Linked DNA regions of Homo sapiens: regions 2, 3 and 4 are each reported to be linked to region 1. The links are microRNA targets in miRTarBase. Many come from high-throughput screens and were not tested one by one. Region 1 holds a microRNA gene; each other region holds the end of a gene's coding sequence.

The links. The annotated mature microRNA hsa-miR-3646 reads AAAAUGAAAUGAGCCCAGCCCA and lies in region 1 at 1,638-1,659, shown strand. An mRNA with a match to its seed (bases 2 to 7 or 8) in the 3' UTR can be bound and repressed. Matches are read on the target gene's strand: a 7mer-m8 pairs with bases 2 to 8, a 7mer-A1 pairs with bases 2 to 7 and ends in A, and an 8mer does both.
Region 2: the mRNA of MON2 is a reported target of hsa-miR-3646. Seed matches in the 3' UTR shown: 7mer-m8 at 1,563-1,569 and 7mer-m8 at 208-214.
Region 3: the mRNA of SMIM19 is a reported target of hsa-miR-3646. Seed matches in the 3' UTR shown: 7mer-m8 at 2,035-2,041 and 7mer-m8 at 1,359-1,365.
Region 4: the mRNA of TRIM72 is a reported target of hsa-miR-3646. The part of its 3' UTR that is shown has no 7-base or 8-base seed match.

The regions. Positions count from the first base shown.
Region 1 is chr20:44,406,540-44,409,694 of GRCh38, forward strand. MIR3646 (microRNA 3646) reads left to right here and starts at 1,581; the gene lies at 1,581-1,664. It overlaps HNF4A (hepatocyte nuclear factor 4 alpha), which reads left to right. Exons shown (of 10, transcript NM_175914.5): 3 at 842-936.
Region 2 is chr12:62,592,215-62,595,369 of GRCh38, reverse strand. MON2 (MON2 regulator of endosome-to-Golgi trafficking) reads right to left here. Exons shown (of 35, transcript NM_015026.3): 35 at 1-2,784. The coding sequence ends at 2,621. Among named protein-coding and RNA genes, the nearest start is that of MIRLET7IHG, 9.0 kb to the left of the region's middle.
Region 3 is chr8:42,552,229-42,555,383 of GRCh38, reverse strand. It overlaps SMIM19 (small integral membrane protein 19), which reads right to left. Exons shown (of 4, transcript NM_001135674.2): 4 at 189-2,840. The coding sequence ends at 2,776. Among named protein-coding and RNA genes, the nearest start is that of SMIM19, 12 kb to the right of the region's middle. RefSeq lists an enhancer at 492-1,013.
Region 4 is chr16:31,224,253-31,227,252 of GRCh38, reverse strand. TRIM72 (tripartite motif containing 72) reads right to left here. Exons shown (of 7, transcript NM_001008274.4): 7 at 1-3,000. The coding sequence ends at 2,498. Among named protein-coding and RNA genes, the nearest start is that of PYDC1, 8.6 kb to the right of the region's middle.

The sequences.
Region 1 (3,155 bases):
CCTCTCCTGAAGCCTCAGTAGATGAGCCCGTCTTCCAGTCTGGTGCTGTTTTTGGGACAAATAGGAGATTGACCCCAGGCCGTTCCACCTACCCCAGGGGCTTCCACCAACCCCAAAGTCTTCCCAAGGCCTTGGAGAGCCCTCTTTCGAAAGCATCTCCTGTTCTGGGTAATGACAATAATAAAATCATAGCAGCTGTCAATTGCGAGCACTTGTCATGTACAAAGACTGTGCCCCATCGGCGCATGACTTCATTTCACCTGTCAACACCCCTGTGAGATGGTTACTGTTGTTATTCCCATTTTATAGAGGAGGAAGCTGTGGCTTGGAGGGCTAGGCATTTGCCCAAGGTCAACCAGCTTGAATCACTGGCAGAGCCAGGGTTAACATTCAGGGCCCCACCCATCACCACGGTGTGGCACTGCCTCTACTTCCTATCCCCCTCCAGAGAGAGGCTTATGTGAACCGAGTATTAACTCTGAGCCATAACCAGGAGCCTGCTATGGGTTCTGAGCTTTTATAGGATGTGGTGGAAATAGCAGGGCTCTGGTACTCCAGAGGTCAAGGTTCCCAACTCAGCTCTAACACCAACCAGCAGAGCGACCCAGGACCACATGTTGCCTCTCTGAGCCTCAGTTTTCCCATGTTTAGCAGGACAGGACTGGGCTCTTAGAGAGTTCATAGCACCTTTCCAGCTCCTGGTGGGTTCAAGAGAGAACTCCCGGGATGAAGAGATGAGAGCACTGAGGTTGGGGGGTCAACTGGATAGCCAGGGCCCTAGTTCTGTCCTAAGAGGAGGAAGTTGTGTCTTCTCCATCCAACCATCCAAAGCCCTCCCCAGATTTAGCCGGCAGTGCGTGGTGGACAAAGACAAGAGGAACCAGTGCCGCTACTGCAGGCTCAAGAAATGCTTCCGGGCTGGCATGAAGAAGGAAGGTGAGCCTCGGCCCTCCCCGCCCCACCACCACTGCCCCACCTGCACCCACAGCTCCCCGACAGTCATTTACAACTGTAGCCACACTTTATGACTCAGTGGCAGGCCCCAGGGTGACTGGCTAATGGCTGAGAAGAGGGAGGGCCTGGAAATCTGACCATAGGGAGCGGCTGGGCTTGGTCTTGAGAAAGATTCAGAGAGATAAGCTCCCACTCTTGGCTCCTCAGGCTCCCAGCAACCACCACCCCTGCCTGCCTGTCTGCGCCACCACAAAGCAGCCACGTTGTGTGTGTGTGTGTGTGTGTGTGTGTGTGTGTGTTTAATATAATATTTCGAACGTTAGGACAAGCATAGAGAATGATATTGCAAACATCTGAGTACTCACTATCCCAACTTTACAAAAGGGACAGCCAGAGGAGCCCGATGCCTGAGCTTCCGGTCCCAGGGACAAATGCCCCAGTTCCCTTAGTATTCATTCGTGGGTATCACGTGATCTCCAAAGTCTTCACATTCTAGAAAATGGGAACAAGACCCCAGACCCATCCTGGACAAAGGAGGAGAAGACCAGAGCACAACATTTATTAAGGTCTTGCCAGGCTTCCTGCTACCAGCAGGTATCAGTCACTGGGCTGTGCTTTTTCCACACTTCAGTAGGTTGGGTTCATTTCATTTTCATGACAACCCTATATGGGAAAATGTTGTGAAAATGAAATGAGCCCAGCCCATTGAACCTATTACAATTCCTCCCTTTTTGTGGATGAAGGAACTGAGGCCCACAATGGTTAAGCAACTTGCCTAGGGCCCCACAACTGATCCTTGGAAGATCTGAAGTCCCAGAGCTTCTGCTATTTGGACCACACTTCAGCACTGTCTATTATTTTATGCTCTCCAGATACCAGGGACATTTAAAATTGTTTTCAGCCCAAGCAAGGGAAGCAAAAATCTTTTAACTGCTTTAAAGTAACTTGAGGCCAGGCGCAGTGAATCAGGCCTGTAATCCCAGCACTTTGGGAGGCCGAGGCAGGCAAATCATTTGAGGTCAAGAGTTCGAGACCATCCTGACCAACATGGTAAAACCCCGTCTCTACTAAAAATACAAAAAAATTAGCTGGGCGTGGTGGTGCATGCCTGTAGTCCTAGCTACTCGGAAGGCTGAGGCAGGAGAATTGCTTGAACCCAAGAGGAGGCGGTTGCAGTGAGCTGAGATCATGCCACTGCACTCCAGACTGGGCAAGACAGCGAGACTCTCTCAAAAAAAATAAAAAAGTAACGAGTTCATTTTCGAATCTCTTCATTTCCTGCTCCTCTAAACTCAACCTTTCCCAGCTCTGCGACTAGTCCCAGACCTTCCCTTCTAGCCCACAGTTGTGCCGTACCAGCCAAACCTTGGTCTAGTCCTGCTAGTTCGGTACAAACACCCCTCACCCCCATCACCCCAGCACACCCCAGAAGCAGGAACGTAGGACCCAGCTTGCTCCAGGGCCCACTGAGAAGGAGGGGAGGGGAGGCTTTGGTAGACTCTCTTTCCCCTGTATCTGCTCCTGGCCCCCTGTTTTCTCTGCCCCCTCCCTTGGAAATATCTTCTATGTCTCATCCTTATGGGACCTTAGTCTGGGCTCATGAGCTGTCTTGGAAAATCTGGGCTTGCTGATCCCGATGCAGGAGTGGGTGGTCCCCAAGGCCTGCTCTGAACGCTGCAATTCTAACATCTAGATATCAGTGGTTCTCCAAGGGCAAGAGGGGCTTTTTAAGCTGCAAATACTCCCTCCTCTCCCAAACCCAGTTTTCAATGGGGTTAAGCCTGTCTCATCCACTTCAACTTCCATTTTGTGGACTGGGAAAGATTATGAATGGGAACCTGATGCATGTGTGAACAGTTGGAGGCAAGAAAAAGATTGAGAACTACAGTCTAAGGTTCCAACATTTCTGTGGTTGTATTAGTCAGTGATTCCATTATCCCAAAAGCCTAAGATTTTAGGCACTATGATTCCTCATAGGTGTCATCCAGAGGGCACTGTGTTTGAGAGAACAGCTCTCTCACAGTGAAAGTTCAGGTCTGTGACAGGCAGATGGGAGAGGGGTTGGCAGCCCTCCTGAGTGGATGGCTACCCACCTCCACTGCGTGTGGCCTGGTCCTGCGTGTGGTCAGTTGTTATAAATGTCTTTTATTAGACATCCAGAGTCATTTTCACTTGTGTAATTTAGGGACATTTCTGTCTCT
Region 2 (3,155 bases), not on the chromosome of region 1:
AGTTCAAGACTAGAATGGCCAAAATGGTGAAACCCCATCTCTACTAAAAATATTAAAAAAATTAGCCTGGCATGGTGGCATGTCTGTAATCCCAGCTACTTGGAAGTCTGAAGCAGGAAACTGCTTGAACCCGGGAAGCAGAGGTTGCAGTGAGCCAAGATCGTGCCACTGCATTCCAGCCTGGGTGACAGAGCGAGACTCCGTCTCAAATGAAAAAAAAAAAAAAAACTCATAGTATTTCTAGTAAGTATGACAAAGGACATTTTTACTACTGCTTAAAGGGCTGGTTATAGACTCAATTGTGCCATAAAATGATCTTATCTTTGAGAGCTTCCTTTTTGAATCTCCTGGCATCGAATACTTTCACACACCCCAGTTCTTCTAGTCACTGGAGAACCCAATTCATACTAACAAGACAAGGGCAATGTGTTCCATGCCAGCAATCAATTACTGTAGTGACTCTTGGAGGGTGACAGGAAATATTCTGGAGGAAAATCCTGTCCAATTATACTACCAAGGGGGCCACCCACTTGCTTCACACTAAGACTGGCATTTATTACCTTATTATATGATATTAACACATTCACTATGTTTATGTTTTGAACTGTAGGGCATGGTCCTGATAAAGCAAGCTTTGGTTCATATAAATGTATATTGCATACACTTGACTCATATTTAACTATTTAATTATCCTAATTGCAACTGATCTTTTATTTCTCAAGAACAGACCATTTTCCTTTGAATAAATGCATAGCAATATTTTTAACATGTTACTGAATCGGTACACTACCCTTGGGTTATTCTGTTTCAATGCTTTATCAGTGATTATGTGGATTTTTCTAATCCTCAATTTAACACACCCAAATATAGAAAATAAGTACATAGCTTGATTTTTTACAACTTTAAGGAAAATGCTGAAAGCAGAACTTATGAAATGCCATATTTTACCTTAATTTTAGGTGAAATAATAAAATAGAAATTCAGTAATTCATGTAAATAAAAAATATCCCCTCAAAGACCTTACTACATTTTACAGATAATGCAAATTAAATAATTATACAATTATAATAGCCTCAAAACTGTATCTCAATCATGACTCAATTATAATATCTTTTTGCAGTTTTATGATTATTCTGGAGAAGCTGAAATTTATAAATTCTATTAAGATCAAAGACCTTCCAATACACTAAAATAATACTGAGACCATCATGATTTCTTATGAATAATCATTGTTTTAAACATCTTTGTGTCTTCACATAAATTATGAAAATTTAACTCAGAAGAAAAATACTGTAATCCATAATCCATTAAATAAAAAATACAGTGAGCTAGGTCAAAGTCAGTATTTTAAGAAATAATTAAGGTATTGTACTCAAGAGCACTTTTCTTTTTCACTAGGCTAGGAAAGTGAAACATAATTAGCATTTTACTCCGTGACAGCAAGTTCACTGCACTTCTAAATGCTTGACTATCTCCAAAAATACACTTTTCATTGTTTTATAATACACACATATTTTATACTTGTGAGTTAACATAGGTATTTTTCTTGAGAAGACATTACAAAATGAAGCACTGATATGAACAAAACCTCACAGGCAAGATTTTAGAAAATCTGAAATCATCTTGCCTGGGTCATAATTCAAAGACAGTGACAAATGTTGTTAGGGGAAACAAAATCAGTAGAAATATAAAATATGAAAAGTCTTTAAAATCCAGACAGCCAATATAAAAAACAGACAGACTTCAGTGAAAGCTTGGAGAGCTGTTTAAAGAAATGAGGTATGATGAAGTCATAGTGCTACAATATGTATCAATGTATTAAGAACCTATATTTCAAAGCTCCAAAATCAGCAAATCATAAACTATTTGCTGCTGTGTTCACATGACCTTACTGGTCAGATGTTTAATGGTCACTAATAATACATTTAAAATAAGCATGAAGCTAACTGCATGATCATATGGTGAGCTTATCCGCCACATATGAAGGCAAATTATAAGTAAAAATGTAAGCAAACAATTTTGTATTAATAATAAATAGAGCTTTAAGCATTTAACATTATCAATACTTTTAAAATTTAAATAAATGCACTATTTTATACAGAACTGTACCATTTATTATACACACAAGTATATCAGTTCCCTTTGTTAACAAAGGCTGGTTATAGATAATATGGAATGTTACAGTACCATCTTGCATAAAATTCTAGTACGATTTTGTACTTGAAAAAGGGTGCAAAAACACCAGACTAATAAATCTGACTGAATTGAAATATCTCTTCTTTCTTTTTAAAAAGTACATCATTAACACATACACCACAAACTGTACATAAGCTCACTTTAAATCACCAACTGGAGATATGGTAGCATGTATACTGTAGTGTTAATTATCCCTCCCATCAGTTTAATTTATTAAAGCCTTACACTGCTGTTCATTCAGGAGCCTTTGTTGATGTGCAAGCCTGTAATATGAATTACTGAACTCAGGTAAGTAGAATTTAAAGGAGGCCAACAACAGCTGCCAAGAATTATCTGCAGTAAGAAATGTCCTTCTCACAGAAGACTCAATTAGGAGCAAACATTTTTTAGACTATCTTCCTGCTTTCAAATATATTGTAGCCGGTCAAGATTCTCCATTTTGAACTCTGGATGCTGGTGGCTGCATGAAATCCTTAAAAGGAACTAGTGCCTCTTTAAGTGCAGAACAGACTTCTGAAGAAGAACAGGTGATGCATTCTACTAAAGTTGGGTATAAGGCAATTACTTGTGCCCAGGTATTTCCATCAACTGTAATGCAAAAGTATAAAACCTCAAAAGGGTGGAATTAAATAGAGATTATTCAATTAACATGAACACAATCCTTTAAACTGCATGTAAAGAAAAAACTCTGAAACATGAAGATTCTACAAGCTTGTATCTTTTTATCTTTTTAATTTTTCAAAGATTTCCTGCTATATTTAATAAGGTATGGGAAAAAATATATGCTCAGTGTGCAGTCATCAGTAACAATAAATTTGATAAAGTACATTTTAAATGGTATTTCAATTTGTGAAGGCTCTGAAAGCTAACAAAGCAATTCAGAACAATCCAAACCTTTGTCATTTTTAATATAATTGCGAGAGGATGTAGTGTACATTTCAAGAATTAGAAAATAACTT
Region 3 (3,155 bases), not on the chromosome of region 1:
CTCTGGTCCTCACTGTTGTGAACATGTTGGAGATTAGCTCAGTGCCCTTCCTATTTCCGTTGGTTTTCTGGCACCTCTTATTCTAGTTCCGCTATTAGAATAGCCTATGAAAGAGGATCACATACAGCAAGCACAGGGGAAACACTCCAGAACCAACCACTGAATGAATTACTTGGCTCTATACCACGTTCTTTTATTCCTTCTCCCTTTATTTTCTAGGTTAAATTTATTCTTGTATCATCTTAACATCTGAAACTATTTTTATTACTATTTTATCTTACTTCTAATGCATACTTAAAATACTTCTGATTGTACAGCAGTTTTACCATAAACCTTGCATGTCATTTTCTGATGAATCATGAATAACTCAACCAGACACAGCGTGAGGTCAACAGCAAACATCTGTGTCCTTGGAGGCGGCCTTCTCCCCTTCACGCAGCTGGCTGGCATCAGCTAAACAGCCAGTTATTTAACACACTCAAGCTGTGCACCAGGGCAGGCTGACCAGTGCTTACTGCTGAATATCTTACACATTAAAACAGGAAGATGAAACCAGAAAAAGAATACAAGGGTTAATTACTAGCTTATTAGTAGTTCCATTTTTCTTCCAAAGAAAACAGTTCTGTTGAGTCTCAGGTGGATGTTGGGTAGAAGCAGGACAGCCAGTCAGCGCCGCTTTGAAGTGTGGCTGCAGGGCTTGCGCTCTCCCCAATTCAGCTGTTGAAGCAGGGAAGAGACTTCAAAGCCGGCTTGCTGTTGTTCCTGCCAGTGGGGTGTGTGCAATTCCCATCAGTTTGCTTTAAGGAAAAAACGGAGAGGAATTCATCTCCTGTCACTTGCCAGGGCTTGATGCTCATCAAATAATCTACTAGTTTGTAGTTAGGACCATCTCTATCTAGTGGACACAAAGGAAATTCATTGTGTGACTTACGTTTATTTATGTACATTAATTTTACACATCTGAGATAGCCAGTTTGTGTAATTTGTCCAGATTGTGCCACATGTCAGTGACGAGTAAACCACTCCTACTGCTGATTAAATTCACTTGTGGAAATATACAGTAGCTCTCCTAGGCAAAGGCAAGTTTAGAAGATTGTCCCCTTGTTGCTCTGTTACTACAACCCATAATTACAACTGTTTACAATCCTTTAGTCAGATTTAAATTCAACATGTAGGAAGTGCGCTCAAACTCCTTTGTGAGTTAAGAATTATTCTGTTTGGTCAATTCACTTTGTACTATATATACATTTTTGAACAACACATTTTTAAAAGTAAATGCAATTTCCCTGAATGATTTTATTTGGTCTAAACCTTAATTTCCATTTAAAATGTATATAGTTTATTTCACAATAAGGGGAAAATGAAATACTTGAAGCCATTATTAACTTTTTTTTTTTTTTCTGAGACGAAGTCTTGCTCTGTCGCCTAGGCTGGAATGCAGTGGTGTGATCTTGGCTCATTGCAACCTCCACCTCTCAGATTCGAGCAATTCTCCTGCCTCAGCCTCCTGAGTAGCTGGGATTACAGGCGCATGCCACCACACCCAGCGAATTTTTGTATTCTTCGTAGAGATTGGGTTTAACCACGTTGGCCAGGCTGGTCTCAAACTCCTGACCTCGTGATCCTCCCACCTTGGCCTCCCAAAGTGCTGGGATTTCAGGCGTGAGCCACCGTGCCCAGCCAGCTCACTCTTATAATTGAAAATAGCTCTAGTTCAAAAACGGATTCTTTTGACTTATGTGGACAATTAAACTTCCCCACTATTACCCAGTCAGCTTTTATTTAAATAAACATGAAAAATTAGGTAAAAACATTTCATTGTACAGTACAGCATGGGAAAAGATATGAGGCTCTTTAGGAAAGCTTAGCATGCCAAAAATGCAGCAGTAACCAGACAGCAACATTCACCAGTGGCAGTAATACTGCCTCGCCAGTGGTAGCACTACTACCGCAGAGTTGCCAACACCAATACACAGGCATCCATTTATTCAACAGCAGGTCCCCAGTATGGCCTAAAGTAGAGCTACCTGGTAGAAATGAAACGGGGATAAAAACAAACTCGCTCCTGGGAGCATAATGAGGAAAAATCTAGTTACAGAAAGCTTCTAAAATTAGCACAGGAGTATGCATCATGCTGTAGAAAAGACGGTCTACCATACAAGTTCTGAAGAAGCAAAGATCATTAATTAAAGAGCTGTTAACAGAATATTCAGGAGGCTGTGGCAGGAGAATCGTTTAAACCCGGGAGGTGGAAGTTGCAGTGAGCAGAGATTGTGCCACTGCACTCCAGTCTGGGCAACAGACTCTGTCTCAAAAAAAAAAAAAAAAAAAGAGCTGTTAACAACAAATTAATCTGTTATTGATCTGACACTTATCACTCACAGAATACAATGAAACAGGAAGTTATTATTGAAATAATAACTTGCATTTTTATTTTTTAATATTGCAAATGGCATAAACTCCAGGATTCCCACTTCCCAAGATGTGTTTTTATTTCTCACTGATTGTATCCTGAAGGAATCACAGGTCTTGGCAAGGTCAAGTCACCATCGCTGGTTACACATATCCTGGATATGTGCAGGTTCCCTGTGTCAAGGCCTTTTGAGCCACTTGGAGATGTAATTTAAAAAGGCAAAACAATGCACAGAACAATTGGGGAAAAGTTACAAGTAAAATAATTTTATGCAGACAGAAATGTTTTTAAAGCTGTTCATGATTTAGTAGAAAGAATCAGGAGCTTGAAACAATTACTTCTGTTGCTCTTTTTCTGAGGTTTCATTCCAATGAGAGTTGCACACTGTCAGCTTGGTTTTGTGGCTGCTGATAGTCGTACTTTCTTGCTATTCACAACAAGAAAAAGAAGAGATAAAATTAATAAAACTGCAAAATGATTACTACTTAACAATATTACATTACAGTCAAGTCATGATTCTCAATGAAGAATTAGTTTTTGTCTGTTTGTTTCAGAGATAGAGTCTCCCTCTGATACCCAGGCTGCAGTGCAGTGGCACAATCACAGCTCACTGCAGCTTCAACCTCTTGTGCTCAAGCAATCCTCCCACCTCAGCTTCCCAGGTAGCTGAGACCACAGACAGACACCACCACACCCGGCTAATTTTTTATTTTTTGCAGAGATAGGGTCTCGCCATGTTGCC
Region 4 (3,000 bases), not on the chromosome of region 1:
ACATTACCAAGTCAGGATTAAAGGCTGGAGGGCAATTAGGAGGCCTTGCAGTAGGTCACATGTCTTTTCATGTGGATTTAATGAGGAAGGAGTCAGAATATAACAGTTTTATTAATGGTGTTGGATTTTACAACCAAATAATCCCTTAGCTATATTGTTTTATTTTCTAACATGAAAGAGCTTCTACCGTTAATCCTCTCTTCTGTCTCCTGAAGCCAGGGCTCCACAGGCCTTCCTCTGGGAGACACACCCAGGTGTGCCGCCTTCCCCTGCCAGATCCTCAGGCCTTTCTTACCCAACTCACAACTTCCCTTTCACCCTTAGTCCCATACCCACCATCTCCCGAGAAAACCTCCGCAATGGGCTGCCGGGGCCCCAGGCCCTTCCACCCATCCCGCCAGCACACCCTCCCCGTGAAAATGAGTGACCCCAGGCCAGCGTCTTCCCTCAGGAGAGAAGCCTGTCTGGATCCCCAAAGGCCTCTCCCTCCAGGGAAGAGGGACTCTCACTCTGGCCTCAGTGGTTACTCCAGAGCCCAAGAAATGCCCTGTGCGCTAAAACCAAAGAAGGTGTGAACCAGCAAGTAAGTGGGGAGCGGCCAGTTCTGGGACATCTAGTTGGGGGCCTTCTCTTCCCCATGAGCAGCAGGGACCAGTGTGACCTTGGCATCAGGCTCTTTCTCTTGGCTGGCTTCCTCAACGTTCAAGACGCTCGATAAACATATCCCAGAGGCAAAGCAAGTTAAGTCGAGGGTTGTTTATTCACCTAGAATCAGCTCCAGCCATTTTCCAATGTCTTCTTTTTGTTGTTTTTCTGGTTTTTGTTGCAACAGGGTCTCACTATGTTCCCCAGGCTGGTCTCAAACTCCTGGCCTCAAATGAGCCTCCTGCCTCAAACTCCCAAAGTGTTGGGTTTACAGGCATGAGTACCCAGCCCTTAAGTGTCTTTGCTTTGGTTTATGTTTGTTTGTTTCCTTCCACTCCTGGTGCAAACCTTACATGTTTTTGACTGGGGAAACATATTTTGGACCTATGCCTCTACACTGACAGTGAAGAGCCCAATGGGTTGTGCACTAGGTCAGGGCTTCCCGCAGCGTCAGCCCCTGTGGCCAGCAGCGTCACCTGGGAACCTGCTAGAAATGCACATTTTTGGCAGGGCGTGGTGGCTCACACCTGTAATCCCAGCACTTGGAAGGCCAAGGCAGGAGGATCACCTGAGGCCAAGAGTTCAAGATCAGCCTGGGCAATGTAACGAGACACCATTTCTACAAAAACTAAATTAAAAAAAAAAAAATGAGCATTTTCAGCCAGGTGCAGTGGCTCATGTCTGTAATCCCAGCACTATGGGAGGCCAAGGCGGGTGAATCACTTGAGGTCAGGAGTTCGAGACCAGCTTGGCCAACATAGTGAAACCCCTACTAAAAATAAAAATAAATAGCCAGGTGTGGTGGCGGGCGTCTGTAGTCCCAGCTACTTGGGAGGCTGAGGCATGAGAATTGCTTGAACCCTGGAGGCAGAGGTTGCAGTGAGCCGAGATGGCACCACTGCACTCTAGCCTTGAGTGACAGAGCAAGACTCTGTCTCAAAAAAAAAAAAAAAAAAAAAAAAAAGAAATAAAAAAAAGAAATGAGCATTTTTGACCTGTCCAACCTACTAAATCAGAAACTTAGCACCCTATGCTTTAACAAGTCATGGCTAAGGGCTTTAAAAAGGTGATTTTAATGCATGCCTAAGGTGGAGAACTAAGGAGAAGGCTTTTGGGTAAGGTGAATCTGGAGCGGGGGACCCAAGGCCTAAGGAGGAGGGGAGTGTGAGGCAAAAGGAGCCCCTTATCTACAGGTTCTCAAGCTCCTCCCATCAATCCCCCAACCTGGCCCTGTCCCTCCCTCGCTCAACCTTAGTTTCTTCCTGGAATTCTCAGGCCTCCTGGTTCCCAAATTCTGATTTCCCCACTGACCTGACTCCAGATCTCCCTACCCCACTGGGTCTTGTCCCCAGCGTCACTCCAACCCCTCACCAGCAGTCCCCAGGCCATGCCAACCCCCACACTTTTTTTTTTTTTTGAGACAGAGTCTCACTCTTGTCACCCAGGCTAGAGTGCAGTGCCGCAATGTCTGCTCACTGCAACCTCCACCTCCTGGGTTCAAGCAATTATCCTGCCTCAGCCTCCCAACTAGCTGGGATTACAGGCGTATGCCACCGCGCCCAGCTCATTTTTGTATTTTCAGTAGAGAGGAGTTTCACCATGTTGGCCAGGCTGGTCTTGAACTCCTGACCTCAGGTGATCCACCCGCCTCCGTCTCCCAAAGTGCTGGGATTACAGGCATGAGCCACCAAGCCAGTCCTACCCCACGCTTGTCAGTATTCTGGGAGATCCCCCAGTTCCCAGCCCCCTGGGCCCTGGCAACCCGCTCCCCACCCTTCTCCCGTCAGACCCGACCAAGGAGACCTAAGCTTCAACCCAGGCCCCCGCGCCCCTCCACTACCCGTCCGGCGGCTCAGGCCTCGGCGCCTTCGGGACCCACGAGCAGCAGCGGCTGGGCATTCTTGCCCTTGTCGTGCCAGCACACGTCGAAGAAGGGGTACACGGGCCTGGGCAGGCGCTCGTGGAAGGCAAAAAGCGGCACGAGCGCGTCGGCGTCGCTGGCATCGTAGAAGGAGAGGACGCCGTCGCCGAAGCTCAGGTAAAGGCCAATGCGCGTGGGCCGCCTCTCGGGGCTGCGCAGAGCGCGCGGCTCCTTGGCCTCCACGTGTGCCTCCAGGATCTTGCCCTCGCGCAGCCCCAGCAGCCACAGGCCCTGCGAGGGCACCGCGTGCAGGCGCCCGCGGCGGGGGGCCTCGGCCGCGATCACGCCCAGCGCCCAGCGCGGCTTGTCGCCAACATCCACCTCCCAGTAGTGCTCGCCCTCGGAGAGCTGCTGGTGCGCCACCACCGCCACCGCCTTGTCGAACTGGCGCGGGTCCTCCCCGGCCGGCGGCGCCTTCTGCTCCGAGCACTCCA